Linked DNA regions of Homo sapiens: regions 1, 3 and 4 are each reported to be linked to region 2. The links are microRNA targets in miRTarBase. Many come from high-throughput screens and were not tested one by one. Region 2 holds a microRNA gene; each other region holds the end of a gene's coding sequence.

Region 1 (8,473 bases), not on the chromosome of region 2:
AAAAACCAGATACCACTTCATACCTAATAGGATAGCTCTAATCCAAAAAATGGAAAATAAGAATATGGAGAAATTGGAACCCTCTGTACTTTGTTGGTGGTAATGTAAAATGTTGCAGTTGCTGTAGAAAAGTCTGGCAGCTGCTTAAAAAGCTAAACATGGAATTACCACATGACCCAGAGCTGGCCCTCCTTTTTGGGTTTCACATCCATGGATTTAGTCAACTTTGGATCAAAAACAATTGGGAAAAATTGTTTCCTGACCATGTACAGACTTCAGCTGTTAAAAGTATAACAGCTGTTTACATAGTACTTACATTGTATTAGGTATTACCAGTAACCTAGAGCTAGATGGCTAAATTACGCAGGATGTGTAGGTTATATGCAAATAACCATCTTGTTTTATATCAGGGACTTGAGTACCCTCGGATTCTGGTATCCATGGAAAGTCCTGGAACCAGTACCCCCATGGATACTGAGGGATGACTATACAAAAGGAATTAAAAACGAATGAAGGCCGGGCGCGGTGGCTCATACCTCTAATCTCAGCACTTTGGGCAGCCTAGGCGGGCTGATCACCTAAGGTCAGGAGTTGAAGACCAGCCTGGCCAACGTGGTGAAACCCCGTCTCCACTAAAAAGACAAAAATTAGCCGGGTGTGGTGGTGGGCGCCTATAATCCCAGCTACTTGGGAGGCTGAGGCAGGAGAAACGCTTGAACCCAGGAGGTGGAGGTTGCAGCGAACCAAGATTGTATCATTGTACTCCAGCCTGGGCGACAAGAGGGAGACTGTCTCAAAAAAAAAAAAAAAAAAAAAAAACTCGTATGGTCAGTGTTTACTGTGCATTCTCAACAGCCCAAAGTGGAAACCTGACTGTCCACCAACAAATGGTTAATGTGTACCTACAAATCTCTCAATTCTCAATATACATGTGTACATACACTGTGAAATACACAGCCATTAAAAGGAATACTTTTTATACTTCCCCCAAATATGAAGCACTTTACTGTTTGATACATGGATGAACCTTTAAAACATGCTAAATGAAATAAGCCAGATAAAAAAGGACAAGTATTGTATAATTTCACTTATATGAACTAAACTTAGACAAATGCATTGAGGCAGAAACAGTACCAAAGGCTGAGGGGAAGGGAAGGAGAAGTTAATTGACAATGTTACAGGGCTTCTGTTTAGGGTGATGACATTTTGGAAATACAATAGTGGTTGCGTAACATCGTAAATAATGCCACTGAATTGCACAATTGTTTAGGAAAATTTGTTACATGTTTTACAATTAAAAATCCTAAGAACACTAAAAGAAAGTCATATTAGGTCGGTTGGTGCAAAAGTAATGTGCCATTACTTTTAATGGCAAAAACCGCAATTACTTTTGCACTAACCTAATAGTTATATCCTGAAGAGGCAGAAACTGATAGGTTTGTCTGTGTAGTTTTTCAGCTTGTATTATTACTACCACTAACAGCCTCTGTTGAACCCTTCATTACTATGTAAGCAGCCATATTTAATTCTCAGAACAATGTAATGAGGGAGAGCCTATGAAAAAACAAAGCCTATGAAACAGAGCCTATGAAAAAACATTAACCAAGGTCATCATCCACAAAAATACAAGTTCCAGCACTAACTCTGCTTTCTCTGTGATGCTTCTCCTGCCCATTCATACTTGTAGGGAATAGGAGTAGAGGCCAATTATGTCGCTTGAGAGTGCTCTTGGAACAGTGGCAAATTTTCTGTACGTGAAATTAGCTTCTCAACTTTTTTGTACGTACGGTACTGGTTCTTAACCTTGGCTACCATTGGAATTACCCGGGAAACATTAAAACACTCATCAGGTCCCACCCTCCAGGGATTCTGTATAACTCGGCTGGGTGTAGCCTAAGCATCAAAATGATTATGCGCAGCCAAGGTTGAAAGCCACCAACACTGACACATGGATTTAATATTAACCACTTGGAACAGAATACCACTGTTAAAATTGCCGTGGAAGGTTAAATAATGGGCAGCCCTTGCTATTCCAAGTTTGGTTTTTTTGTTTTTTGTTTTTGAGACCAAGTCTTGCTCTGTCACCCAGGCTGGAGTGCAGTGGCACAGTCTCAGCTCACTGCAACCTCTGCCTCCCGGGTTCCAGCTATTCTCCTGCCTCAGCCTCCTAGGTAGCTGGGACTACAGGCGTGTGCCACCATGCCCGGCTAATTTTGTATCCTTAGTAGAGACAGGGTGTCACCATGTTGGCCAGGGTGGTCTTGAACTCCTGACCTCGTGATCCACCCACCTCGGCCTCCCAAAGTGCTGGGATTACAGGCTTGAGCCACCGTGCCCGGCCTATTGTAAGTTTTAAACAACCTCAGACCAGGGAACTTCCTCACTTGGACATACACTTCATAGCAATTTCTTCTCTTAAAATAGTGGAAAATGAAGCTGTAAAAGCACAGTGAATGAGAACACTAGCAAGCTATGGCAATTTGAAAAAATGTGATTTTAAGAGTCAGTCTTGCACCTTTATCATTTAAATTTGGTTATCTCAGCATGAAACTTCTGAGACTGACAGCAAGAATTAAAACACCTTTTGTATATGCGGAAACTACCCTGTAGTCTACCTGCTCTCAAATTTGAGCACGCTTGCTGGGCCCCACCACCAATTTCTGATTCTGTAGGTCTGGGATAGGACCTTAGAATGTGTCTATCACGTGACACTTGTAAGAACCACTGTTCTAGCACAAGCCAAAAGAAGTGACAGCAAAGACTGACATCCAGAATCCTCTAATTCAGTTCTCTCTACTCATCTCACTACCTGTGCTCTGCTTAGGTGAATGTGTTTGCAGCATGTGGAGGAACAATCCATGTATTCTTTGTCCCTGCCCAAACCTAAAGATTGAGGAGGAACTGACAGCAATATTGAGAGTGAGGCAAGAGAGAAAAAAAACCTAGCTTCGGAGTCACATCTGGTTTTCAATGCGAGCTTCGTGCAAGTTGGACTGAGTTAGGTGCCTCACGTCTGGAAACCTGTTTCTTCATGTGCATTTGCGCACCCTCATTACATTGTTCTGAGAATTAAATATGGCTGCTTACATAGCAAGGAAGGGCTCAACAGAGGCCGTTAGTGGTAGTAATAATACATGCTGAAAAAAAACAACTGGTGAAGAAGATACTGAATTGTACCTGAGATTTATACCATTTGCTGTTAAAAAAAAAAAAAAAAAAAAAGCCATACTACTCCCAAATACCTCCGCGCAATGTTTTCCAGTCATTAATTCAACAGCAGAATAGGGGATAGGACAAATGTCCTTATGCTCATGGAATTAATTTTAACGCCAGGTAGTTTAGCTTCTATGTTAAGTGCTAGAGAGCAGCATCCGTTAAATCTGGTGGCTGCAGCAGAGCACTTCCCTAGGAACCGACTGCACACGCCCAATTCAGAAGGAAGTGAGCACTGATTCCCGGCAGCCAACTCCCGTTCGCGCAGCCGCTGCCACCGGCCCTTAAGACGATGTGACCGCCAATTTTGTAACAGTGACGTCACCCGACGTCTGCAGGCCCTGACAGTTGGCTCTAGCGGGTGCGCAGTCTCCCTACCCCCGGTAAGGGGCTCTACCGGCCCTGGACCCAAGATGGGACTCCTACCTCCGACCACCCGGAGCAGCGGCGCCCCAGATCCGGCCGTCCGCCCTGCGCGTGCGCGGCCCGACCCCGCCGCGGTCTGGCTGTAAGGGCGCTGGAGGGGAGCTGGGCTGCCCCAGCCTTCAATGCTGGAGGGACGGCCGCGTGGGGCTTCAGAAAGGCTAGGCGCCGAGGAGTGTAAGCAGCGTGTGCCCATTTAAAGACAAAATCAGTGTGTTTTTCAGGTTTGTACGAAATGAAGTTGTAGAAAGATTAACAAGGGTTACCTGGGAAAGGCAGATTTTCAACTTAGCGTTTACATGTTCACCCAGTGCATTATTTTATTTAAAAAGAAGAAAAATATATACTTAACGGCTCCTAATCCAGCTCTCTTTGCCTGGTCTCCCAAGACACCTATCATTTTGCCCAGCACATACCTTGCCGCTGTGCCACACTGGAGTCCCCGGTTAGGTTCCCTGTGCTTAGACCGCCCCCTAGTCCCTCCAGGAAGCCTTTCCCAACCCTTTCGCGTTAACTGCCCGCCTCATCATCACAAAGGTAACTTGAGCTTTTATCAGTTTTAATTACTCCTTTTAATTTGCTCTTCTTCCCTATGTTTAGGCAGAAACGAGTCTTTTTTTAACCATATTCATCACCTGGTGCCAGCAACAGAAGTGTTCCCTAAAAATTCCTAGAATAAACCAACACGTGCTGACTAGATTCTCCATCTTCATAAACGGTGATACAAACTATGCACATCATAACTACCAGCTTCATGAGGTCAAGACTAAATCAAAAATTCTCAAGGACTTTTCTAAAAATTTTTTTAGCATAAACTGTTTCCTCTAACTTAAACTTCTCTTAAGTGAACGTGTCTTTCCACTGGGATGACTGTCTACATGCTCAGGAATCCTGAATTCATGACTATGTTCAACTCCCACGACCATTTTTAAATCATCAAAATGGCAGCAAATGTCATTACCTGGACCAAAAAGCTGCAGGTTTTGTGGCAAATGGGAAATGTGTTATAGAATATGACTGGGAAAGAGGGATTTCTTAGTGCTGCCCAGAATTAATTCAGCAAACACTGAACATTACTACGTGCCACATATAGGATCATACTGCATTTCAGGTCACCATCAAAGGTAAATTACAAGGCTGGGCGCAGTGGCTCATGCCTGTAATCCCAGCACTTTGGGAGGCCAGGGCAGGCGGATCACCTGAGGTCAGGAGTTCAAGACCAGCCTGGCCAACATGGCAAAACCCCCGCTCTACTAAAAATACAAAAATTAGCCAGGCATGCTGGCATGCGCCTGTAGTCCCAGCTACTTGGGAGGCTAAGGCAGGAGAATCGCTTGAACCTGGGAAGTGGAAGTTGCAGTTAGCTGAGATGGCACCACTGCACTCCAGCCTGGGCAACAGAGCAAGACTCCATCTCAGAAAAATAAAATAAATTTTTTAAAAAGGTAAATTACAAGACTGCAAAACTTTTTAAAAAAACCTTCCCCACTAGTTTGTACCTAATAAATGCTAACATTTAAAAGGGGGCACAAAAGGCCTGCAGAAATAAGAACTCACGTTCTTGAAAGTACTGCCTAGCATGGTATCTTCCTCATCATCAGAGGTGCTCTATACATCTTCAGTTGAAACGTGAAACAGACATCCATATGCAAAATATTTTCAAGGGTTTTGTTGGCTTTTACATGTTTTTCTTTAGATAACTGGTAATGATGCACATTACAAAGGAGACTTTTCTAAATCTCAAGTCCTTTGCTAATTTTTCTTTGGAACAACAGCACATTTTCAATGCCAAACCTTCTCCTACAACATACAAAGGGGAGATGCCAAAACTCTGAATTCTTGTAACGGATCCTGCAACTAGTTCTATCCAGAAGATGGAGACAATATTCCCTGGAGTTGACTGAACATGTGAGAAGGCACAGCTCAGAAGGAGAGGAAGGCTGAGGGCAGTGAAATGAGAACCTATGCATCACCTGGCCTTTTTACATGTTAGTCTATCCTACTATCCCAGGAATTCACTTCTGCTGTACTTGAGATTCAGGGATAATAATGTGACTCCTCCTCCCACATTCTAAGTAAATATGTTAACTAGATGAGCATTTATGTACATTTTAGAACAAAGTCTCCAGAAAGGTATAAAGTTTATTAACATCTTTAAAAAAAAAAAAAAAAAAAAAGATGGGCCGGGCATGGTGGCTCACGCCTGTGATCCCAGCACTTTGGGAGGCCAAGGCGGGTGGATCCTTTGAGGTCAGGAGTTTGAGACCAGCCTGGCCAACATGGTGAAACCCCATCTCTACTAAAAATACAAAAAAATTAGCCAGGCATGGTGTCGCACACCTGTAGTCCCCAGCTACTCGGGAGGCTGAGGCAAGAGAATCGCTTGAACCTGGGAGGCGGAGGTTGCAGTGAACCAAGATCGTGCCGCTGCACTCCAGCCTGGGCAACAAGCAAAACTCCATCTCAAAAAAAAAAAAAAAGATGGAACAGAACACAGCTACTGAATATGATATAGTTCCTTATTTACAAGTTTTACTATGGGAGGGACATTTTCCTCAGCATTTCAAATAATCAGAGGAGTAGAATTTTTTTCTAGAAATATCAGTATTTCACTCTCCAGGTCGAAGATTAATGAAAACATTAAGTGACTGCACCAGTTAGAAGAAGATAAACTAATACCTTAAAAATATATAAAAAAAGAAAGGGTAGTTGCTACTTAAACATGAATTTTCACAAAATTATTCTGTGACTAATTCAGACAATCTATTTGCTTAGAAAAGCTGGCAAAAAAAAAAAAAAGCACATTACATGAATATGCTTCATTTAAGTACATGCTTTCGAGCTGATTTAAAAAGAAAAGTTGAATTATGGTTTCCAGAGCTTTAGGAGTCCATCTTCACTGTAGGTAGCAATCAGGTTCTGATGAGGGTGATGTGCAATACCAATCACATCCTTCTCGTGCACCTGGAACATGTAAAGCACAGGGTTAGGATGTACAGATCTGCAATAAATCACTCTGATGAGGCTTCCAGAGGTGGGTGGAAGGGAAAAAGAGATCTTGGGAGGCCACATATTCCAAATGGCATAGGAGAAAGATGGAGGAGGGTTTTCCAACTCACATCACATTGTGACATAATAATAAACTTTAGGCTGGGCGCAGTGGCTCATGTCTGCAATCCCAGTACTTTGGGAGGCAGAGGCGGGTGGATCACTTGAGGTCAGGAGTTCAAGACCAGCCTGGCCAACAGGGTGAAACCCCGTCTCCACTAAAGATACAAAAAATTAGCCAGGAGTGGTGGCATGTGCCTGTAGTCCCAGTTACTTGGGAGGCTGAGGCAGGAGAATCACTTGAAACCAGGAGGCAGAGGTTGTAGTGAGCCGAGATCACACCACTGCACTCCAGCCTGGGTGACAGAGTGAGACTCCCTCTCAAAATAAAATAAAATAAAATAAAAATAAACAAACTTATATAGTGTTAAGCCACCGAGATTTGGGGATCATCATAGCAGCTGACATTAATTTTACTTCTTGAATTTGACATGGAGCTAAATGTTTTAAAACAACATATTTTATACTGAGGGTCACATCGATAGCTCTGGAAAAGGCACATACTTCAGAGTTCAGAAAGACACAAGTCCTACCATATTTCTTTAGATGAACTTAGTAAGTAATACTCACTGTCAAAGTTCTCTCCAGTTTGCCAGTGACTGTACTGAAACAGTAGAGCACAAAGTCCTCCCCTACACAGTAGATCCATTCACCACGGGGAGAGAGGGCACAGCAAACAAAGTCCCCACCTTCTCTTTTACCAGAACTGAAGCTTCTGACAATCTAGATCACACCACACCCCAAGAAAAAAACATCAGGATTAGTAGCAGCTCAACCATGTGCAGCATTTTAAACTGACATTTTTACGTTGTTATTTTGCACTTTGGTTTACTATCATTTGTAATTAGATCTCCAGTCCTGTTCATCATGTGCTAACTCCCCTTGCCTGGGAAATATTCAATAGATAAGTAATCTAAACTAAGTGGCAGACAAAAATTTAGAATTCATACATCCCACGTCACCAATCATGCCCTAAAGAGACATATTACCCTTAAGCAAATTTCATTGCCATACAAAAAACAATTTTCTAAATCAATATACCAGTATTTCTCAAAGCTTTCTGGATGTCTGCTCTCCAGTTTCCTCTAACAGAATGAGAAGCTTTCCCCATACAGGATGACACTCAGTCTCTAAGACTTTGCTTGCTCTATTGATACATTAAAATCATCATAAACCAAGCTGAGAGAAACCAATCTGAAAAGGCGAACAGTTTACATACTATATGCTTCCATTTCTATACCATTTTCAAAATGACAAAATTATAATAATGGAAAACAGATCAGTGGTTGCCAAGGGTTAGGGCTTGGGATTAACCTGAAATTTAAAACATGATACCATTTACATTAGCAGCCCCAAAGTGAAAATACTTAGGTATAAATCTAACAAAATACATACAATATTTAAATGAGGAAAATTACAAAATTCTGATGAAGGATATCAAAGAACTACACAGAGATATTCTATGTTCATGAACAGGAAGACTCAATATGGTAAAGATGTCAGTTCTTCCCAACTTAATCTACAGATTTCATACAATCCCAATCAAAATCCCAGCAAATTATTTTGTGGATATTGACAACCCAATTCTAAAGCTTACGCAAAGAGGCAAAAGACCCAGAATAGCGAACTCAATGTTGAAAGAGAAGGACAAAGTTGGAGGGCTCACAATACCCAACTTCAAGATTTACTACTAATCTACAGTAATGAAGACAGTGTGGTATTGGATCAA
Region 2 (5,000 bases):
CTGGGATTACAGGCGTGAGCCACCGCGCCCGGCCAGGACTTATTTTTAAAACATGACCACAATATTGTCATCACACGTAAATGCATTAACAATGATTTCTTTTTTTTTTTTTTCTTTTAGATGGAGTCTTACTCTGTCGCCCAGGCTGGAGTGCAGTGGCATGATCTCGGCTCGCTACAACCTCTGCCTCCTGGGTTCAAGCAATTCTCTGCCTCAACTTCCCGAGTAGCTGGAATTACAGGTGCTCGCCACCACGCCTGGCTAATTTTTTTTGTATTTTTAGTAGAGATGGGATTTCACCATCTTGGCCAGGCAGGTCTTGAACTCCTGACCTCGTGATCCACCAGCCTCGGCCTCCCAAAGTGCTGGGATTACAGGTGTGAGCCACCGTGCCCAGCTAACAATGATTCTTTAATATCATAAAATATATAGTCAATATTCAAATTTCTCTGATCTGTGTCCAAACCATTTTTTTTTTTTTTTTTTTTTGAGACAGGGTCTTCACTCTGTCACCCAGGCCGGAGTGCAGTTACGTGATCTTGGCTCACTGCAACCTCTGCCTCCCAGGTTCAAGCTGTTCTCCTGCCTTAGCCTCCTGCCTTAGGACTACAGGCGTGCACCACCACACCCGGCCAATTTTTATACTTCTGGTAGAGATGGGGTTTCACTATGTTGCCCTGGCTGGTCTGGAATTTCCTGACCGCAAGTCATCTGTCTGCCTCGGCCTCCCAAAGTGCTGGGATTACAGGCGTGAGCCACCGTGCCTGGCTTATACATTATGATTGTAGATATATCTCTTGAGTCTCTAAACTACAGGTTCTCCTTCCATCTTTCCTTTTTCATTCATTACAAAATTTCTTTTGAAGAAATTGGGTTGTTTATCTTATATATTTTCCCACAGTCTATGTTTCGCTGATTGTAGCCCTGTGGTGCTGTCATTCCATCTATTTTTTTGAGATGGAGTCTTGCTATGTCCCCCAGGCTGGAGTGCAGTGGCACGATCTGGGCTCACTGCAACCTCCTCCTCCCGGGCGCAAGCAATTCTTCCACAGCCTCCTGTAGCTGGGACTACAGGCATATGCCACCGTGCCCAGCTAATTTCTGTATTTTTAGTAGAGATGGGGTTTCACCATGTTGACCAGGCTGGTCTCGAACTCCTGACCTCAAGTGATCCACCTGACTCTGTGTCCCAAAGTGCTGGGATTACAGGCATGAGCCACCTCGCCCAGCCTGTATTATTTTTTTTTTTCCTCAGCAGTCAGATGCCCTGTATTACATTCTTGCCGCCACTCCATTTTTACAGCACACAATAAAGAAGACTTGATCATACTTAATTTGCCTAAGCATTTGAAAAAAAAATTAATTCTCGGATAAGTTTTTGTAAGTTCGTAAATATAAGAATGCAAGTCTAAAATCCACAGGAAAAATATATTTCTGCTTTGCTAAAATGTCTGCTAAAAATAAAAAACCAAACTAAGTAAGCAGAAATAAATTAAGAAATGGGAAGGAGTCTTGAAAAATCAATCTTCCCAGAGTCGATATTATTAACCACCTCAGAAATAAGCAGCGCAGGGAAAAGTATGTGGCTCCTCAAGGCACTTGGGTCTCTTATGGCTTAGAAGTCCTCTGAATACATACATCAAGGTTTCCCAAAAATATGTCAACGAAAACCCACATAACTATTTTTGTTTGTTTCTTTCTTTCTTTCTTTTTTTTTTTTTTTTTTTTGAGACGGAGTCTTGCTCTGTCACACAGGCTGGAGTGCAGCTTGCTCACTGCAACCTCTGCCTCCCAGGTTCAAGCGATTCTCCTGCCTCAGTCTCCCGGGTAGCTGGGACTACAGGCATGCGCCACCACGCCCGGCTAATATTTTATTTTTAGTAGAGATAGGGTTTCACCATGCTGACCTCAGGTGATCCCACCTCCTCGGCCTCCCAAAGTGCTGGGATTACAGGCATGAGCGACCATGCCCAGTGAAAGCCCACATAACTATTTATCTTCATTTTAATTCTCTTGCTTCAGGGTTAGTGTTAAAAAATTTGAGGTTAGCATATAGGAAGGAAGTCCTCTTACTGGATCAATGCCAAAAGGGTATGGTCCACCAAACACTCCAGGGAGGGCTGGGTTCAGCTGTAGAACAGGGTTCCCCCGAAGCGTCTCTTCACTACCATGACAGGGAAAAAGTCACATTATTTTTGAACAAGAGAGGGAAACAACAAGGGTCCAGAAACTGACCCCAAAATAAATTACTGTAGCTATCTTGTCTCTTCAATAAAATGGGAGGGGAAAAATAAAGAGGAGAGACTAGCAGCTGAGACTGAGGGATCCAAAATGACAAAAAGAAAAATTAAACACACAAACACACAATCAAGTAGGGAACTGGGGAATCTGGTTTTAGTTTCCAAAAAAAAAAAAAATCATTTCTAATCTTAGTTCCTGGATACTTGCTGAACAAATCACAAAGCAACTCACAGTGTGGAGCATGAATGAGGAGACACTGTCACCACTTCCTAAAGAAGTGTCAGTTTACCACTTGTCTTAAAAATCAGGGCTGCACATGAAAGGAATAAGCTTTGAATTTTAGCTTCTTCTGCAACTTACGTCCAATTATAAGTAAACATCGGCCGTACACTCCAGGATGACCCAAAGATATTAAGAGACTTGGAAAAGCAATCATTGTAGATGAGGCCAGTGTACATGGAGAACACACCCATCAATAAAATAATGTATCGACCACTGAACACAGTGCTAAACATCTGGGAACCAGAAGAAAGAAGTAATGAGAATGTACTCACTGCAGCTCACATTGTGACAATGTTATTCAGAATATACCTGCCCCTTTCTCCAGCACTACTTTACCCCATCCTGATTCAGAGAGCTTGAAGTAAAAACCAAAATACAATGCTAATGAGACAGTCACTTTCACAGGATGTGGCCTCTATTTTTTTATTAGGTTGGCACAAAAGTTACTGCGGTTTTGGCCATTTCTTTTGGCAGCCAAAACCGCAATAACTTTTGCACCAAACCTAAATAATTTTTATTTTTTTAGAGATGGGGTCTCACTATGTTGCCTATGCTGGTCTCGAATTCCTGGGCTCAAGTGATTCTCCTGCCTCAGCCTCCAAGTAGCTGGGACTACAGGCACACACTACCACTTCCAGCTTGCACATGTCGTCTTTGGTGTTAAAATGAACATAACTTCTCTACTTCCTTTTGATAAATTCATGGATAAAAGACTTCCAGATCATAATTTTCATAATGAATGCTTGGGAAATTATAAAATTTCAGTTCAATGCAGATGTAACTTAAACATTACCTCATTCTCATTCTTCTGGGAAAGGATCCGGCTCTCCCTCAGTACCATCCACACAGCAAAAAGGGTCATTAAAATGCCATGACCGAAGTCTCCAAACATCACAGCAAATAGAAAAGGGAACGTGATAATAGTATACGGAGCTATGAAGAAACCAAAAAAAGAAAAATACAAAGTACATTAAACCATAGCAATTCCACAAATATTACATTCTTTTCCATACCCACCCCCCTTTTTTTTTTTGAGATGGAGTCTTGCTCTGTCAGCCAGCAATGTCTCAATCTTGGCTCACTGCAACCTCCATCTCCCAGGTTCAAGTGATTCTCCTGCCTCAGCCTCTTGAGTAGCTGGGATTACAGGTGCCCACCACCATGCCTAGCTAAGTTTTGTATTTTTAGTAGAGACAGGGTTTCACCATGTTGCCCAGGCTGGTCTCCGACTCTGACCTCAAGTGATCCACCTGCCTCGGCCTCCCAAAGTGCTGGCATTACAGGCGTGAGCCACCGTGCCCAGGCTTCCATAATCTTAAGATCAATATAAGGTGACTTACTCCCCAGCTGCCAGACAGATAGGACTCTCAGAGAAAATCTTTCATGGCAGAATCAACACATCTTCACAAAGTAGCTAATGAAATTTGAGCTACTGATAACTTTTTTTAAAAGAGAGATGGGGTCTTTCTCTGCCACCCAGGCTGGAGTGCAGTGGTTTCATCACAGCTCACTGCAGCCTGCAACCCCTGGACTCAAGTTATCCTCCCACCTCAGCCTCCCAAACAGTTGGAACTACAAGTATGTGCCACCATGCCCAGTTAATTTTGTTTTAAAATTACTGATAAATAATATTTTTTTAGATGGAATCTCACTATTTTGCCCAAGCTAGTCCTGAACTTGTGGCCTTGAGCAATCCTCCCACCTCAGCCTCCTGAATATCCGAGATTACAGGCATGAGGCACTGTGCCTGGCAGCTCTGATAACATTTCAAACAAAGAACAGTGGAAATGAAGGTGTAACCTTGACAACATTGGTTTGTTCTCTGACTCTCTTGTAACTCGTGGGACCCTGCTCCCAGGGCAGGCCAGCTGTCTTCTCTTTGTGCAGCAACCATGTCCCAGTGATATAAAGCTAAATATCAGATAACGTACAGATGGAGAGAGCCCAGAGCAAAGCAGTTCTTCCATAGGGCTCCAACTGAAAATGAATACTCACACTCTTGATTTAATAATTAACTCTCCAAATATAGGAGAAATCTGTGTTGTACCTAAAGTGGCCAATACTTGCTACATTTTTTCTGTCTAACCTTGGAACAGGGAAGCCAAAAAAAAAGCCATTTAAAAATATCAGACATCTTAGAAGAAACATTTTGCTTAAAACAGTTCCTGCAAATGATTTGCTAGAGAAGTCCAGGTGTTTTAGGGCTGTGAGGGCACATGAAAGAATCCAGTCTCATGAACTTTTTTTTTGAGACAGAGTCTTGCTCTGTCACTCAGGCTGGAGTGCAGTGGCACAATTTAGGCTCACTATAACTTCTGTCTCTTGGGTTCAAGCAATTCTCCTGTCTAGGCCTCCTGAGTAGCTGGGATTACAGGCATGCACCACCAGGCCTGGCTAATTTTCTTGTATTTTTAGTAGAGATAGGGTTTCACCATGTTGGCCAGGCTGGTCTCGAACTCCTGACCTTAAGTGATCCT
Region 3 (6,371 bases), not on the chromosome of region 2:
CCTCAGGTGATCCGCCCACCTCGGCCTCCCAAAGTGCTGGGATTACAGGTGTGAGCCACCGTGCCTGGCCCATTTTGTCGTTTTTTTTTTTTTTTTACTTACTCTGTATTTTTCACATAATCCATTTTCAAGTTTGTTTCTTGCTTTTTAGACTTCAGTTACATCACAGGCATTTTCATAGACATAATGACCAGTGTAACTGCATCATATGCATGAACCATAACTTACTTAAGCATATTGTGTATTTTGGAAGTTTCCTGAGTTTTTGGCATTATGATCCACATGGTGCCTGCAAACCTAATAATGACCCTGTAGATACAAGGGGATGTAGGAAGGGGGTGCACATGGGGACCTTCTCTTTTTATTCTATACGATTCTAATAATACATCCACACACTAATTGTATAATAACTTCCTGCACCTCAGTAAAGAACTATTTGCTGACATTTTGGATCATCTTCCTTAATAGGGAATTACTATGTCAAAAGGAAGCAGTTATTTTTTTTTTTTTTTTTTGAGACAGTCTCACTCTGTCACCCAAGCTGGAGTGCAGTGGTAAGATCACAGCTCACTGCAGCCTCAACCTCCCAAGCTCCAGTCATCTTCCCGCTTCAGCATCCTGAGAAGCTGGGACTACAGGCGTACGCCACCACACCCAGCTAATTTTTAAACCATTTTTTAACTTAACTTTTTTTTTTTTTGAGACAGAGTCTCACTTTGTTGCCCAGGCTGGAGTGCAATGGCATGATCTCGGCTCACTGCCATCTCCGCCTCACAGGTTCAAGCAATTTTCCTGCCTCAGCCTCCCAGGTAGCTGGGATTACAGGCATATACCACCACACCAGCTAATTTTCATATTTTTAGTAGGGATGGGGTTTCGCCATATTGTCCAGGCTGGTCTCGAACTCCGGAGCTCAGGTGATCCGCCCACCTTGGCCTCCCAAAGTGCTAGGATTATAGGCATGAGCCACTGTGCCAGGCCAATTTTTTAATTTTTTGTAGATACGGGATCTCCCTATGTTGCCCAAGCTGGTCTCCAATTCCTGGGCTCAAGCAATCCTCCTGCCTCAGCCTCCCAAAGTGCTGGGATTACAGATGTGAGGCACCATACCCAGCCAAAAGGAACAAATTTTTCAAAGTTCTGAGATAACTGCTTTATAAAAAGTGCATTTCTGTGCCCATCAGTGGAGCACACCATTGTCCACCTTCCCATACCTACACCAAGACAGCCTTCTAGATTTTTTTAAATGCTCTATCCTACAGCTCTTTCAAACTTGTAGTGCACTGGGAGGATATAAGGCAGTAGGGAAACAGTGATGGAGCACAAAAACCCCTTTCCTCTAGTCAGGCTTATCCTTGCCACTAAGAAACAGTCTCAAGAATCTGGGAAAGAAACTAAATAGCAAGGATCCTTCTATGAATGCCCAAAAAGATGAATCTCACCGCTTCACCTTCCTCCTCATCCTCAGAGTTGGAGTCAGCTCCATAGTCATCTACCGTATCAGCATCGTCCTCGGAGCCCCAGAGGTCCCCGTGGTTCACCATACCATCTTCTTCAGAGTCTTCCTCCTCCTCTTCCTCATCACTGCCAGGTGCTGGGCGCTTCTTGCCTCGAGGAGCATTAAATAGGGACTGGGGTCCCTTCTTACCAGCTGTCTGGACAGCTCCTGCAGAGATCCCTAAGGGTTTGAAGAGTCCTGGACTAATGGCAGCCACACATTCCCTGGCCCCACACCCTGGGAGCCTGTACTTTCTACCCCTCAGAATGTCCTTTGGCTGTTCCTTTCACTCCGGAAATGTTTAGCGAGTTCTTCCCTACCCAGGACCCAAAGGGACTCCTCATGTAGCATCCAGCTCTTAGTTTCACGGACCTTTTGGTAGCTTTCCAGGCAATGGTTTGGCCTCAGGAGACTTATTTGTCTTAGGGGCTTCAACAGAGCCCAATCTCCTCTTGGCTGCCCTGAAAAGACACAAGAGATTCAAGGAGTGAAGAAATGGGAAGATACTTCCAGGCTCTGCCATTTCCACCATAGGGAAATGTGAGAGTCTAGAATTAACTCTGTGGTCAAAGATGAGCAGTACCAATTTAACCTACTTAAGTTTTGACACCCACACTTACCTCTTTCGAGCACGACTAGACAGCCTCTTGGAATTTTCGTCACTTACTGTTTAAAAAAGAAAAACGAGGCAGAACAAGTTACAGGGGACATTAAAAATAAATGGGAACGGAAATAAACATGGTAAGAGAATTAGTACACTAATTAAAAGGAGTCCATTTAAATCTCAGCCCTGTTATTATTTAATAACTGTATACAAGTTTCTTTTTTTTTTTTGAAATGGAGTTTCACTCTTGTCTTCCAGGCTGGAGTGCAATGGCGTGATCTCAACTCACTGCAACCTCCTTCTCCCAGATTCAAGCGATTCTATTGCCTCAGCCTCCCATCACCACACCCAGCTAATTGTTGTATTTTTAGTAAAGACAGGGTTTCACCATGTTGGCCAGGCTGGTCTCGAACACTGGACCTCAGGTGATCCACCTGCCTCGGCCTCCCAAAGTGTTTCCTTAATAGTGCCTCTCTCACAGGACTCTAAGATGATTAAGCGATATAACATGACCAACAAGTTTAATACAGTGCCCAGGACTTCCTACTATCTCAATAAACTGCATCCTTTATCCAATGCCCAACACAAACTCCCGGTCCAGTGTTACCTCCCACCAGTCTTCCACACAGTATACTACTACTCGGCATGAAGCAGCCAGATCCGTGCTTTTCCATTTCCACCCCTTCCAAAAGGCAAATCAGTGACTGACCCCTCCCCTTCACTACTTCCTCTTGCTACAATGTTACCCATTTTTCAAAACCCAGCTTAACAAAAACTTTTACAGTTCTGCATGGGCTCCCCCTTCCTCTGAACTCACAATTGTTTTAAATCACACTTTTCCCTTGCATGAATAATAGTTGTGTCCGTGTCTTCACATCTCTACGACCTAAACAGTTCCCTACAATCTAAACGGCTGTTTCATTCATACCTCCTAGTAACTCATACAGAGAAGATTCCACTTAAATATAAAATGAACAGAAACTAAAAAAGAGAAGAGGTTATAATACAGAATACTGCAAAAGCTGAGGGATCAGGAGGCCACAACTAATCCTTACCTGCAGGCAAGAATCTGACGAGTTCTGTCTCGGCACCCTTCTGCTTCCGGGCCTTTCGGCCTGGCCCCCGCTTCTCCTTCGTAGGGTCCAACTTGCGCCCCATGGTACTGTGGCAGGCAGAAATGGGAGAAGGTGGCGTCGCGCGTGTCGGAGGGAACGGCAGAACGCACGCTTGGCGTATTATAGTGGGAAAGGGCACAGCCTCAACTCAGCACCCGCAACTCACTCAGCACTCCCGACTCAGCACCCGCGACTCAAGCACCCCCGCTATCCCCCTGGAGGCCCGACCGAACGCCCTCCCACCTGAAACCCAGGTAGCGCACCCTTCTCCCCACGTCCCAGACCAGGTCAGTGCTGCCACTCTTCGTCCCCCAATTTCCTCTAGACCCACCAGAATGCGGGTTAATGTCCGAGAGTGCCCTTCGGGCGGCCCTCCACGTGCAATCCGGACCTAGCTTTCGGCCGGCACTCGCCACAGAATCGTTCCACGCAGGCGCACGGGTAGCGCTAGCCTCGCGGCCCCGCCTCTTCCTGTTGCGCCTAGTCGGCCGCCGCACCCGGAACTTACGCTCGCCCTGGGAACGCCAGCGGAGCCGGCGGCGGCGAGTAGGGGGCAATTCGAAGGAGACGCGCAGCTTACACCCGCGGCGGGTGGAGGGAGCAATGTGACGAAACCATTGAGCTTGACCGACCTTCCCTCATGGAGTTGGCTTTTAGCCTCACGGCCGGTTTCTGTTGGGTGAAAGCCGCACCTTCTCCTCGAACCAGGGCCCGACATTGGAGCCCTCTCCCTCGCATCCACTGCCCTAGTCCAGCGTCAAGATCACGGAATTCCAGGCTGGGCGCAGTGGCTCACGCCTGTAATCCCAGCACTTTGGGAGGCTGAGGTGGGTGGATCACTTGAGGTCAGGAGTTCGAGACCAGCCTGGCCAATATGGTGAAACCCTGCTTCTACTAAAAATACAAAATTAGCCGGGCGTGGTGGCGGGCGCCTATAATCCCAGCTACTCGAGAGGCTGAGGCAGAATTGCTTGAGCCCGGGAGGCGGAGGTTGCAGTAAGCCGAGATCGTGCCACTTAAGCCTCACCAAGAGCGAAACTCCACCTCAAAAAAAAAAAACAAAAAAACCAGCCGGGCTCGGTGGCTCACGCCTGTAATCCCAGCACTTTGGGAGGTCGAGGCGGGCGGATCACGAGGTCAAGAAATCCGAGACCATCTTGGCCAACCTTGTCTCTATTAAAAATACAAAAATTAGTTGGGCATGGTGGCTGGCGCACGCGTGTAGTCCCAGCTACTCGGGAGGCTGAGGCAGGAGAATCGCTTGAACCCGGGAGGGGGAGGTTGCAGTGAGCTGAGATCGCGCCACTGTACTCCAGCCTGGCAACAAAGCGAGACTCCATCTCAAAACAAACAAACAAAAAAAACCGTGGAATTCCATGCCACTTACCTCCTCCTCTTTGCCCCTTTTTTAAAAATCTTTTTATAGAGACGGGTTGTAGGGGGTGGCGTCTCACTATATTGCCAGGGCTGGTCTAGAACTCCTGGGCTTAAGCGATCCTCCTGCCCCCACCTTTGTGCTGAGATTACAGGCTGTGAGCCACCGTGCCCCGCCCTCCCAGCACCTTCCTTGATGCTGACCCCTGCTCAGCCCCTCAATTAAGGTGCTGCACTGCACCTCATTCGCAGGGGGCCTCTTCGCCGGAACTCGCTTTCAGGTGGGTCTACAATTAGTTGGGAAACAACGGGTTGCAAGGCTGACCTGGTCTGGGACATGAGAAGGGGTGAACTACAAGGGTTTCAAGGTTGGAGGACGTTAGGTCGGGCCTCCGGGGGTGTGGGATTGAGGCTGTGTTCTTCCACAAATTGCATCCCAATTTTGCACAACTTAGCAAGAAAACCCCCCTCAGCCTTCCTAGAAACTAACATTAAGGTAGTGGTTAGGTGTTAAAACCGTTCCATGTACTTCACTGGTTTAACTTGACAACCGTATGAGGTATACATGAGATATCTGCATCCCACCAAAGTTAAACAACTTGCTCAAGGTCACAGAGCCATTAAGCGGCGGTGCCCGCAGTTTTGCAGCCTCTCATTTTCCACAGGTGGAAGTCAACGTTGGCAAGGCACATACTGCACCCACACACAGAACCCAGTTACTCAGTGGGGTATCAGGACACCACGTAGCCCTTAATTTTCAACTATACAGGTGCCAGGCTCCTGCCGCACACACTCATCCACCTGCACCTACACCCACACTGAACCAGAGCACTAAAATACAAGGAAACTTTTATTTTCAATTTTCATCAAGAAATTTGCTGTGGTTTTTTATGCTTTTGGTTTTTTCCTTTTTTTTTTTTTCCACTTTATTTCATTTAGCCGCTCAGTGGCTAGAGCCGCTGGGTTCCTGGTATTAAAAAGATGCCAACAGAGGTAGCTGTGTCTCGCCCAGGGGCCCAGCCCACTCTGAATACCCCCCAAAAAGGAGAAAAGAAAACACAAAATAAACCAACAAAATAAAACCAAAAGGAGGAAAAAATTCAGATCATTTTCTTCAAGCCTGGCAGGAACCCACAACAGTTTGTGTGTAACAGGCGTTACAGTGGGGAGAAGCCAGGGTCCAGAAGGCCAGCCCGCCAGCTCCTGCAGATGGCGCCAGCGCTACTGCTGCATGTCTCTTCTGCAGGAAGGGCACCACTGCCCCTCACTCCCTCCCCTCCCCCAGTGCACTGGGGCTGTTCCTTTACAACATGGAAGATGGGCAGAAGGAAGGTGAGGGTCTCTCAGGCCCCCAGGGGAGAAGCTGGGACAAGAGAAAGTGAGGAAGGTCACTGCTCAGCGGTGGAGGTGGTATCAGTCTGCATCTTCACTGCTGCTGGGCTACCTAGAGAAGGAGACCCGAGGAGTCAGAATTCCAGATGATAGGAATCCACCCAATCTCAAGGGAATTCACTGATAGGCCACCCACCCAGTATGTAAAGCTAGGGACATACAGCAAAGTTACAAGCTCCAGAATGGTTCTGCAGGAAGAGGTGGTGTCAAGAAGAAAATGGTCCTACCTGCTGTGGGGTAGGTTCGGGTGCCCGGTTTGCCAGGCGGCTGAGAATGTTACGCTCTGACATCTGTAACCTCACAGCAACTGGGGGAATTCGGGCAATGGTAGCTGGGAGTCGAGTCACATCAGCTTTCATGTCACTCAGCAGTTCTTCCAGCTGTTTCA
Region 4 (8,473 bases), not on the chromosome of region 2:
TTCAAAATCTTTTGAAGGTCCCAGGCATTCATATGTTTAGAAACAAAAAACAAAAAGAAAAACTTCATAGGCTGCGTGGATGCATAGCAGAATCTCATAGCCATTGTGGTAAAGGCCTGGAAGGTAGTTTTCAAACCAGGCTGATATCATCATTATATGGAGAGGTTTTTTAAACATACAGTTTTCAACTTCTACCTCAAACTCATTGAATCAGCATTTCTGGAAGTAGCTTTTCCTGAATTAAGAGTATGAGAATACCTTATCAAGAGAGTAATGACAGCTTTTGTACTATAAAGGTATATAGGAAAGGATAGAAGTAGAGGGGTAAGCCTTACATTTTAAGAAGAAATCATATACCATTCCTTACCATTGAAAGTTATAGAATAGAAGGTAAGGAGTTAACTCCTGAATACCTACTGAATATTTGAAAAGAAGTATAATGTTTTGGGGCTGGGCGCGGTGGCTCACACCTGTAATCCCAGCACTTTGGGAGGCTGAGGCGGGTGGATCACCTGAGGTCAGGAGTTTGAGACGAGCCTGGCCAACATGGTGAAACCCCGTCTCTACTAAAAAACAAAAATTAACTGGCCGTGGTGGCAGGTGCCTATAATCCTAACTACTCGGGAGGCTGAGGCATGAGAATCGCTTGAACCTGGGAGGCGCAGGTTGCTGAGATCCCACCACTGCACTCCAGCCTGGGGGACACAGTGAGACTTTGTCTCAAAAAAAAGAAATGTACAATGTTTTGGTTTTTTTGTTTGTTTGTTTGTTTGTTTTGAGACAGAGTCCACTTACTGTGTTCCTCAGGCTGGAGAATCACTGGAACCACCTCCCTGGTTCAAGTGATTCTCCTGCCTCAGCCTTCTGAGTAGCTGGGATTACAGGGATGTGCCACCATGCCTGGCAACTTTTGTGTTTTTAGTAGAGATGGAGTTTCACCATTTTGGCCAGGCTGGTCTCGAACTCCTTACCTCAAGTGATCTGCCTGCTTCAGCCTCCCACAGTGCTGGGATTACAGGTATGAGCCACTGTACCCGGCTGAAAAAGGAGTATAATGGAGATTAAATATCTGGACTGTAGAGCCAGATTTGCCTGGGTCTAATCCCAGCTCTTCCACCTATTAGCTGAGAACCATGAACAAATTGTTGATCTTCCTCTGCACCTCACTTTCCTCAACTGTGAAGTGGGGACAATAATAGGACCTACCTCAGGATTGTAGTGAGGTTTAAATAACACAGTGAAGATAAATTGTTGAGAATAGTACCTGGCACACAGAAATGGTTGCTGTATATGAATTGGCTACAATTATTATTTATTGTTATTGCTCTATGCCAGGCACTTTTTGTTATATCTTTTTTCTAATAACATTGCTTTGAAATGAAAAATATCCTCAATCTGCAGATGAGAAAAAATAGATGATGCTTAGTTTGAGCCCAGAATCATGAGAGACCAAAATCCATACCCTTTCCATTATATCTTAATTTATTTCCAAATGGTAATGTCTAGAATTAAAATGATTTTTTGTGGTTTTATTTCAGGAAACAATTTCTGATAATTGTGTGGTGATTTTCTCAAAAACATCCTGTTCTTACTGTACAATGGCAAAAAAGCTTTTCCATGACATGAATGTTAACTATAAAGTGGTGGAACTGGACCTGCTTGAATATGGAAACCAGTTCCAAGATGCTCTTTACAAAATGACTGGTGAAAGAACTGTGAGTATATCCTCTGTGGTGCTGTTCCTCTTTAATAGGTTGTAAACTAGATCACCCAGAGCCTAGAACCTTGTGTTAGGAAAATGAGCCAGACATTCTCTGAGGATAGATAAAGCAGCTGCAGATCTAGGAACCAGATTCTTAGAATAGGAAACAGCAGAGTTGATTTATTTTATTTTTATTCTGTGTGTGTGTTTTGACTGGGGTTGATGAGTAGTGTTATTATGAGTGCTTGTCTATGGATCTTTGAGTTCCTCTTGGAGCTCTTGGCAAGATGAAAGTATTCTTCCTCCCTTTACCTGGGCAATACAGGGGTTGGTCTTCAATTACTTTTCTAATAGGAGTGCTTTAGTGCTCCATGTTTTTAGATTCTTGAAATTTGGATTTTTCCATAATATGCATAATCAGAAAAATGTACAGTGTTGCCACTTTCAAGTTTATTGAAAGTTTATAGTGCACTCTTTCCCTTCAGTAAACAAATGTAAGAAATAACTAAATATTACTGTTTATCTGCTTTAGTTTATTTAAAGCTTTAGTAATCAGGAAGAAAGGTTTTAGAATCAGATTGTTTGGATTTGAATCCCAGTCTGTCATGTACCATCATTGTGATTTTGTGCAAGTTCCTGTGCCTCATTTTCCTCCAAAACAGGGCTAAAAATAATACCTACCTTAAAGGGTAAAGATTTTAAGATTTAATTTGTGAAAGAGCTTTGTGGTGCCAGGCTCATAAAAGTACCCAGAGTTCAAATGTCTCGTTATTATGTGAAATGATCTTAGTTCTGATACTAGAGTAAAGCCTAATTCTTCTTTTGTTTGTCCAACAGGTTCCAAGAATATTTGTCAATGGTACTTTTATTGGAGGTGCAACTGACACTCATAGGCTTCACAAAGAAGGAAAATTGCTCCCACTAGTTCATCAGTGTTATTTAAAAAAAAGTAAGAGGAAAGAATTTCAGTGATGTTTATACTAATAAGTTTGCTAGTACAGTGTCAGTTATTTAAAGTGGTAATGCCCGATAATGTCTTTTAAATGTTTGAGGATGTTTTAAATACATGCATTGTCTTCACGAAGAAGATGTAAAAATAATGAACAATAAATTGCGGTGGAAACCTCTTCTTCCCACTTGCCAATTCTTGAGAAAAAGGGATGGTATTAAAAAAATGAAAGGTTGGAGTTGTATCAAGATAAGAATGTATTTTATTAGGAATTTAGATATGAATTTTACAACCAAGAGCTAGAAGGTAAGCATTTGGAATTCTTTATTTCCTATTCAGGAGTTAACTCTTTATCTCACATAGTTTTTAAGTGGTAAGGACTGATATTTGATTTCTCTTTAAAATTTAAGGCTTTTGCTGATACACTTGTGAACTAGGCAGGAATATCTTATACGATATTGTGAAAAGCCTTCACACTTTGTACTTGTAGAGTAATAGAAGTATATTAAATTTTTAGCATGGAATGAAATTTATCTTAGAGAAACTAAATTACTCATTTAATGACTTAATAGTTCATTAAGTCATTAATGACTTAATAGTTCATTTGTCATTAAAACTATACCTATGGGCAGAAATTAAAAGGAGAAGATTTCGGCATTGTATGAGGATGAACTTTTGAAACAGTGTAGAAATGTACTTTAGTTGGCATGGGATGGTGGCTCACGCCTGTGATTCTAGCACTTAGAGAGGCCAAGGCGCAAGGATCACCTGAGCTCAGGTGTTGGAGATCAGCTTGGTCTACATAGCAAGACCCCCATATTTACAACAAATAAACAAAAATTAGCCTGGTGTGATGGCACATGCCTGGAGTCCTAGCTACTCAGGAGGCTGAGGCAGGAGGATCTCTTGAGCCCAGGAGTTTGAGGTTTTATATATATATATATATATAAATTTTGAGGTTTTTTATATATATATTTTTGGAAAGTAGAACTCTCCACCTCACAATTTAACTTGAGTACATTTCATATATATATACACACACATACACATTTTATATATTAAATGTACTTGAATTAGATTGTGAGGTGGAGAGTTCTGCTTTCCAGAATTTATGTGTATTTTATTTATTTATTTATTTTGAGACAGAGTCTTGCTTTGTCGCCCAGGCTAGAGTGCAGTGGCGCGATCTCGGCTCACTGCAAACTCCGCCTCCCGCGTTCAAGCAATTCTCCTGCCTCAGCATCCTGAGTAGCTGGGATCACATGTGCCCGCCACCGCACCTGGCTAATTTTTGTATTTTTTAGTAGAGACGGGGTTTCACCATCTTGGCCAGACTGGTCTCAAACTCCTGACCTCATGATCCACCTGCCTCGGCTTCCCAAAGTGCTGGGATTACAGGCATGAGCCACCGTGCCCGGCCTTATGTGTATTGTAATACATATATATATATAAATTCTGGAAAGCAGAACTCTCCACCTCACAATTTAACTCAATTTCCAAGAGCCTTTGAACACTTAATGTGTTCAATACTGGGAATACTATTCAAACTGATTTCAATTCAGCTAAACTTAGCAAACAAGATTTATCCTATAGGAAGTCTTACTTTACAATGATTGAAGACGTTCAGTACTTCATTAATGAAATCGTCTTTCCAGCTTCCTATCAACAAGAATTTTTAAAGTGCCTACTATACAAAGCATTTTCCTAGTTGATCCCACAGAGTCACTTGGGGCAGATTACCAGATGCTGAGAAGAAAAAACCCTTCATCAGAGGTGGAGGAAAAATGGATTTCAAGAGTGCTTCTGGTTTTTGTCAGGATGGACCAGAGAATCTGGAACAGTCCTGAAGAAAATAGCTGGTGGCTTCCTTGGCCTTTTGCCATCAATGATGCTTCTTACTTGGATTTAAACTGCCATTAGGAAACCTCTTGATCAAGAATTTAGACAAGAATTTCATTCCCATGTGATAATTTAGGTTATAACACTAGAATGGAACAAAGAGTAGAATGTCTTTAGTTCTTTATTTTGCATTATGTCATAAGAAAGTTCTTGCTATGTTGTAAAATCGTTGTTAGATTCAGGCTTTTGGGGATTCTGAAAACACATTTTGTTAGAGTTGAAGTCTATTACCTGAGAAAGGTAAAATTGTGTCATAATTGTTCATCATACTAGGTATTAAGGGTAGAGACAAGTTACTTCAAGGTATAGAAACACTGACCAGTACTCGACTGTGAAAAACATCTTTACCTTTAGCATTTTTTTTTTGAAACAGTCTCGCTCCGTTGCTCAGACTGGGGGGCAATGGCGCAATCTCAGCTCACTGCAACTTCCACTTCCTGGGTACAAGCGATTCTCAATCCTCAGCCTCCTGAGAGTAGCTGGGACTACAGGCGAGCACCACCACACTTCGCTAATTTTTTGTATTTTTAGTACAGCCAGGATTTCGCCACGTTGGCCAGGCTGGTCTCAAACTCCTGAGCTCAGGCGATCCGCCTGCCTTGGCCTCCCAAAGTGCTAGGATTACAGGCATGAGCCACTGCACCTGGCCTGTGAAGAAACATCTTTTATCAATGCTTCCTAGACTGGTAGGACATAGGGTGAGAGGCGAGTGGTGGTTCGTTCTTGATTATGTTCAGATCTTGAAAGAATTCAACATTAGGGAGAGAAGCCTTATCAAAAGCCTCAAAAACTCTACTGAAGGTAATATGATACCTGATTCTCACTATGGCTTTATTTAAAATAGAAGAAATAAACCCTTCTAATATCTGCATCTTAGTCTTCTGAATTAAACTCATTGACTAATAAAAGATTTTTACTTTGGAGGGTTTAGCACTGCATCAAAAAGGAAGCAGATCTCTCCTATTTGTTAAACGCTAAGGAATGAAAGAAAATAACAATAAATCTGACCTCTTTTTGTCATATGGCACATTAAATATCTTTGAAAAAAACCCCAAAACAATAATAACAAAAGCTTGCCGCTCTAAAACGTTTAAAATATCGGACACAATAATAAATTTTTAAAAATGCAAGGCTAAGCAGGTTTTAAAAAGTATAGGGACTCTCCAAGAGGAAAACAAAACCAGGAGCAGAATCCAAGGATATAGGGAAGCACTGAAGCCAGCAGCTCCCTTACTGACAGTGCCAATCGTGGAATGCCAACAGCTTTAGTTTTAACTGTATGCAAGGGGCTGGTTACAAAGCTGGGGGTTAAGGGAGAAAGATTTAGATAGGAGACCACAGCATACCACCACTAAATCTTCAGTTAAAAAAATTCGTAATATACTTTCAGAGCATAGCTGATGATTTGCCAAGACAGACAAGCGTTCAGATCACTAAAGGTGTAACCATTAGGTAGGTGACTTAACCTCCCAGAACTTCAAGTTTCTTATAAAATGTAGGTAATAGTACTTTCCTTTAGGATTTACTTTTTGAGGAATGGAGATAATACATGTAAATCTTTCAGAGTGGTTTTTAATAGACAATACATAATGGCTATCATTAATCACAATGGTTCAGGTATGTGTGTTTTCTTGTGGACCCATCAGGGTTTTCCAAGATTCCTGCCTGTACCCAGCCAAGAATTTAGGGGGCAGGGGAAGCCTCTGGGGTTTCGTGTTGTCTTGGATATTGATTTCCATTTCTTCTCCCTTTCCATACCTTACAGCTGGATAAAAGTAAGATAATGGTGACTAAGAAAAACTTGTAATTTTTTTCCTCAGTCCTTATTTTTACATTTTTTATTTACATTTTTTTTTTTTTTTTTGAGACAGGGTCTCCCTCTGTAGCCCAGGATGGAGAACAGTGGCTCTATCATGGCTCACTGCAGCCTCAAACTCCTGGGCTGAAGTGATCCTCCTACCGTAGCCTTCTGAATAGCTAGGGCTACAGGCACATGCCACCATGCTCAACTAATTCTTTTTAGTTTTTTGTAAATATGGGGGTCTTACTGTGTTGCCCAGCAAGATCCCCATAGTTACAACTTTTTAGTTTTGAACTCCTAGGCTCAAGCAGTCCTCCTCCTTTGGCCTCCTGAAGTGCTATGATTACAGGTGTAAGCCACAATGCCCGGCCCTTTATTTTAAGATCTGAAATACGAGCTGTTTACTGGAGTTCATTAATATAAAAAACTAGGCCATTTTTCACTTTATCATTAGATAATCAATTTACATTTTAATTGCCAAAATATCTGTAATTGAAAAGCTGTTGAAGAAAAAAAGGGATCTTCTGTACCTGGATTTTACTGTTTACTGATAAAAAATTACCATTTGAACAACATCTTTTAAAGTCAGGTTTTCTTCATAAGGTTTAATATTGTTAAAATTTATTAAATCTAGTATGTATAATTTGTGATCCTTCTTGTACAAGTGTTGAAATGAGTGCTGTAAAATCAACCAAATGTTTTGAAGTTTTGGTGAATATATTCTGATGTAACTTGCTTTCAGTTACCCACAGTTCAGATCTTAGAACTTTTCAGAAAATTTTTATGGGAATTGAGAGAAAAATGTCTGCAAATTGGCACTGAAACAGTGTTTTTATTTGCATAGTTGACTTTTTGTGTTTGGATGATAACTTTTGCCAAAGGCAATTTTGAGTAGATCTTTTCACAAAAGAATCCTATTTTAAAACTTTAAATAATTTGTTTTCATTAAATCTAATCATTTTGTTATAATTGAATTCCATGGGTAAAGAATCTTTAACTTCATATACTTTTAATACTTACATAAAACTAGATACATTAAAAGGTCAATATTAATTATCAAAACTTAAATTTTACCTTGTTCAAATACAAGATTACTAAAGGCTTTAGATTTTTTAAGGCATATTATAACCTTAACATTCGTATTTCTTGAAAGAGATAGACAGACACTTGTTTAATGTGCATAGAGTTTATTTGGTACATCTATCAATTTCTACAATAACTGACCAAAAACAGTTCACACAGTGTCCACCTGCACTCCATGTCTAAAATGATTTATTTAGTAGGGTATTTTGCAAGGCTAGAAAGGAGAGAAAGGATTTCACAGTATCAGTGAAAACTGTTTTATCATGAAACAAATGTAATACATTAATATATTCATTCATTCTCTATTAGAAAACAGCAAAATTACATTGTTAGTTGTATTATTTACAGTGAAAACTTGGAAGACTTGACAAAGCATCAGTTAGTTTATCAACAGACCTAGGAAGCTCCCTGTCCCCTCCTTTCAGGGTCCTTTCCTTGGAAATGAAATAAACTTAAATCAGATTTTACATAACTTTAAGCACCAGCTTGACAATTTAAAGTTTTATTTCAGTTTTATAAAATACTCCTGCTTTGAAAGGCAAAGTGAATGTAAAAATGTGAATGTAATTAAACAAGTCACTGGCCTGGAAACTTTTTATTGCAATAGTCTTTATGTTTTACTACTATATTCACTTCTTGGAATGAATTTGCTTGTAGGTTTGAAACAAAATATTTGCCTTTTGTCTTGAAAAATTCCCTTAAAAAATTAATTATTTTTGGAACTGTACAACTACATTTTCATTCGATGTTAAATATGCAACTTGGTCCTTGGATATCATGTTACAAAGTCCAACCTGTTGGATAACTTGTTATAGAAAACAATAAAAAACCTTAAACTATCATAAAATATTACTGATGTTAACAGTCATGTATGTATAACACATCACTGTATCTAGATTTTCCTGTTATTGGATGTTTAAATTACCAATGTACAATCAGGTTTTAAAATGTAATACTTAAATTTCCATTCACTATGTAAAATTAAAAGCTCTAAAAGACCCTTTGAGTTCTGTATTTCAGAAACATTAGAACACTATTA

Evidence for each region. Region 2 holds the annotated microRNA hsa-miR-548at-3p (CAAAACCGCAGUAACUUUUGU, at 2,960-2,980, opposite strand). A microRNA usually pairs through its seed, bases 2 to 8, with sites in the 3' UTR of a target mRNA and lowers its output. Matches are read on the target gene's strand: a 7mer-m8 pairs with bases 2 to 8, a 7mer-A1 pairs with bases 2 to 7 and ends in A, and an 8mer does both.
Region 1: miRTarBase lists SMU1 as a target of hsa-miR-548at-3p. Seed matches in the 3' UTR shown: 7mer-m8 at 1,375-1,381.
Region 3: the mRNA of CHD4 is a reported target of hsa-miR-548at-3p. Seed matches in the 3' UTR shown: 7mer-A1 at 5,669-5,675.
Region 4: the mRNA of GLRX2 is a reported target of hsa-miR-548at-3p. The part of its 3' UTR that is shown has no 7-base or 8-base seed match.

What each region holds. Positions count from the first base shown.
Region 1 is chr9:33,040,792-33,049,264 of GRCh38, forward strand. It overlaps SMU1 (SMU1 DNA replication regulator and spliceosomal factor), which reads right to left. Exons shown (of 12, transcript NM_018225.3): 11 at 7,315-7,467; 12 at 974-6,600. The coding sequence ends at 6,502. Among named protein-coding and RNA genes, the nearest start is that of DNAJA1, 20 kb to the left of the region's middle. RefSeq lists an enhancer at 3,192-3,693 and a silencer at 3,548-3,867.
Region 2 is chr17:42,492,790-42,497,789 of GRCh38, reverse strand. MIR548AT (microRNA 548at) reads right to left here and starts at 3,017; the gene lies at 2,960-3,017. It overlaps ATP6V0A1 (ATPase H+ transporting V0 subunit a1), which reads right to left. Exons shown (of 22, transcript NM_001130021.3): 12 at 3,317-3,456; 13 at 2,602-2,756; 14 at 2,074-2,164.
Region 3 is chr12:6,564,659-6,571,029 of GRCh38, forward strand. It overlaps CHD4 (chromodomain helicase DNA binding protein 4), which reads right to left. Exons shown (of 40, transcript NM_001273.5): 39 at 6,211-6,371; 40 at 5,424-6,035. The coding sequence ends at 6,018. NOP2 (NOP2 nucleolar protein) reads right to left here and starts at 3,633. Exons shown (of 16, transcript NM_001258308.2): 1 at 3,549-3,633; 2 at 3,158-3,264; 3 at 2,119-2,164; 4 at 1,871-1,959; 5 at 1,443-1,678. The coding sequence starts at 3,260. It overlaps CHD4-AS1 (CHD4 antisense RNA 1), which reads left to right and starts at 3,713. Exons shown (of 3, transcript NR_199067.1): 1 at 3,713-4,872. RefSeq lists enhancers at 3,483-4,104, 3,928-3,977, 5,645-5,939.
Region 4 is chr1:193,090,826-193,099,298 of GRCh38, reverse strand. GLRX2 (glutaredoxin 2) reads left to right here. Exons shown (of 4, transcript NM_197962.3): 3 at 1,539-1,715; 4 at 2,540-2,829. The coding sequence ends at 2,674. It overlaps RO60 (Ro60, Y RNA binding protein), which reads right to left. Exons shown (of 9, transcript NM_001173524.2): 9 at 8,080-8,473. Among named protein-coding and RNA genes, the nearest start is that of GLRX2, 10 kb to the left of the region's middle.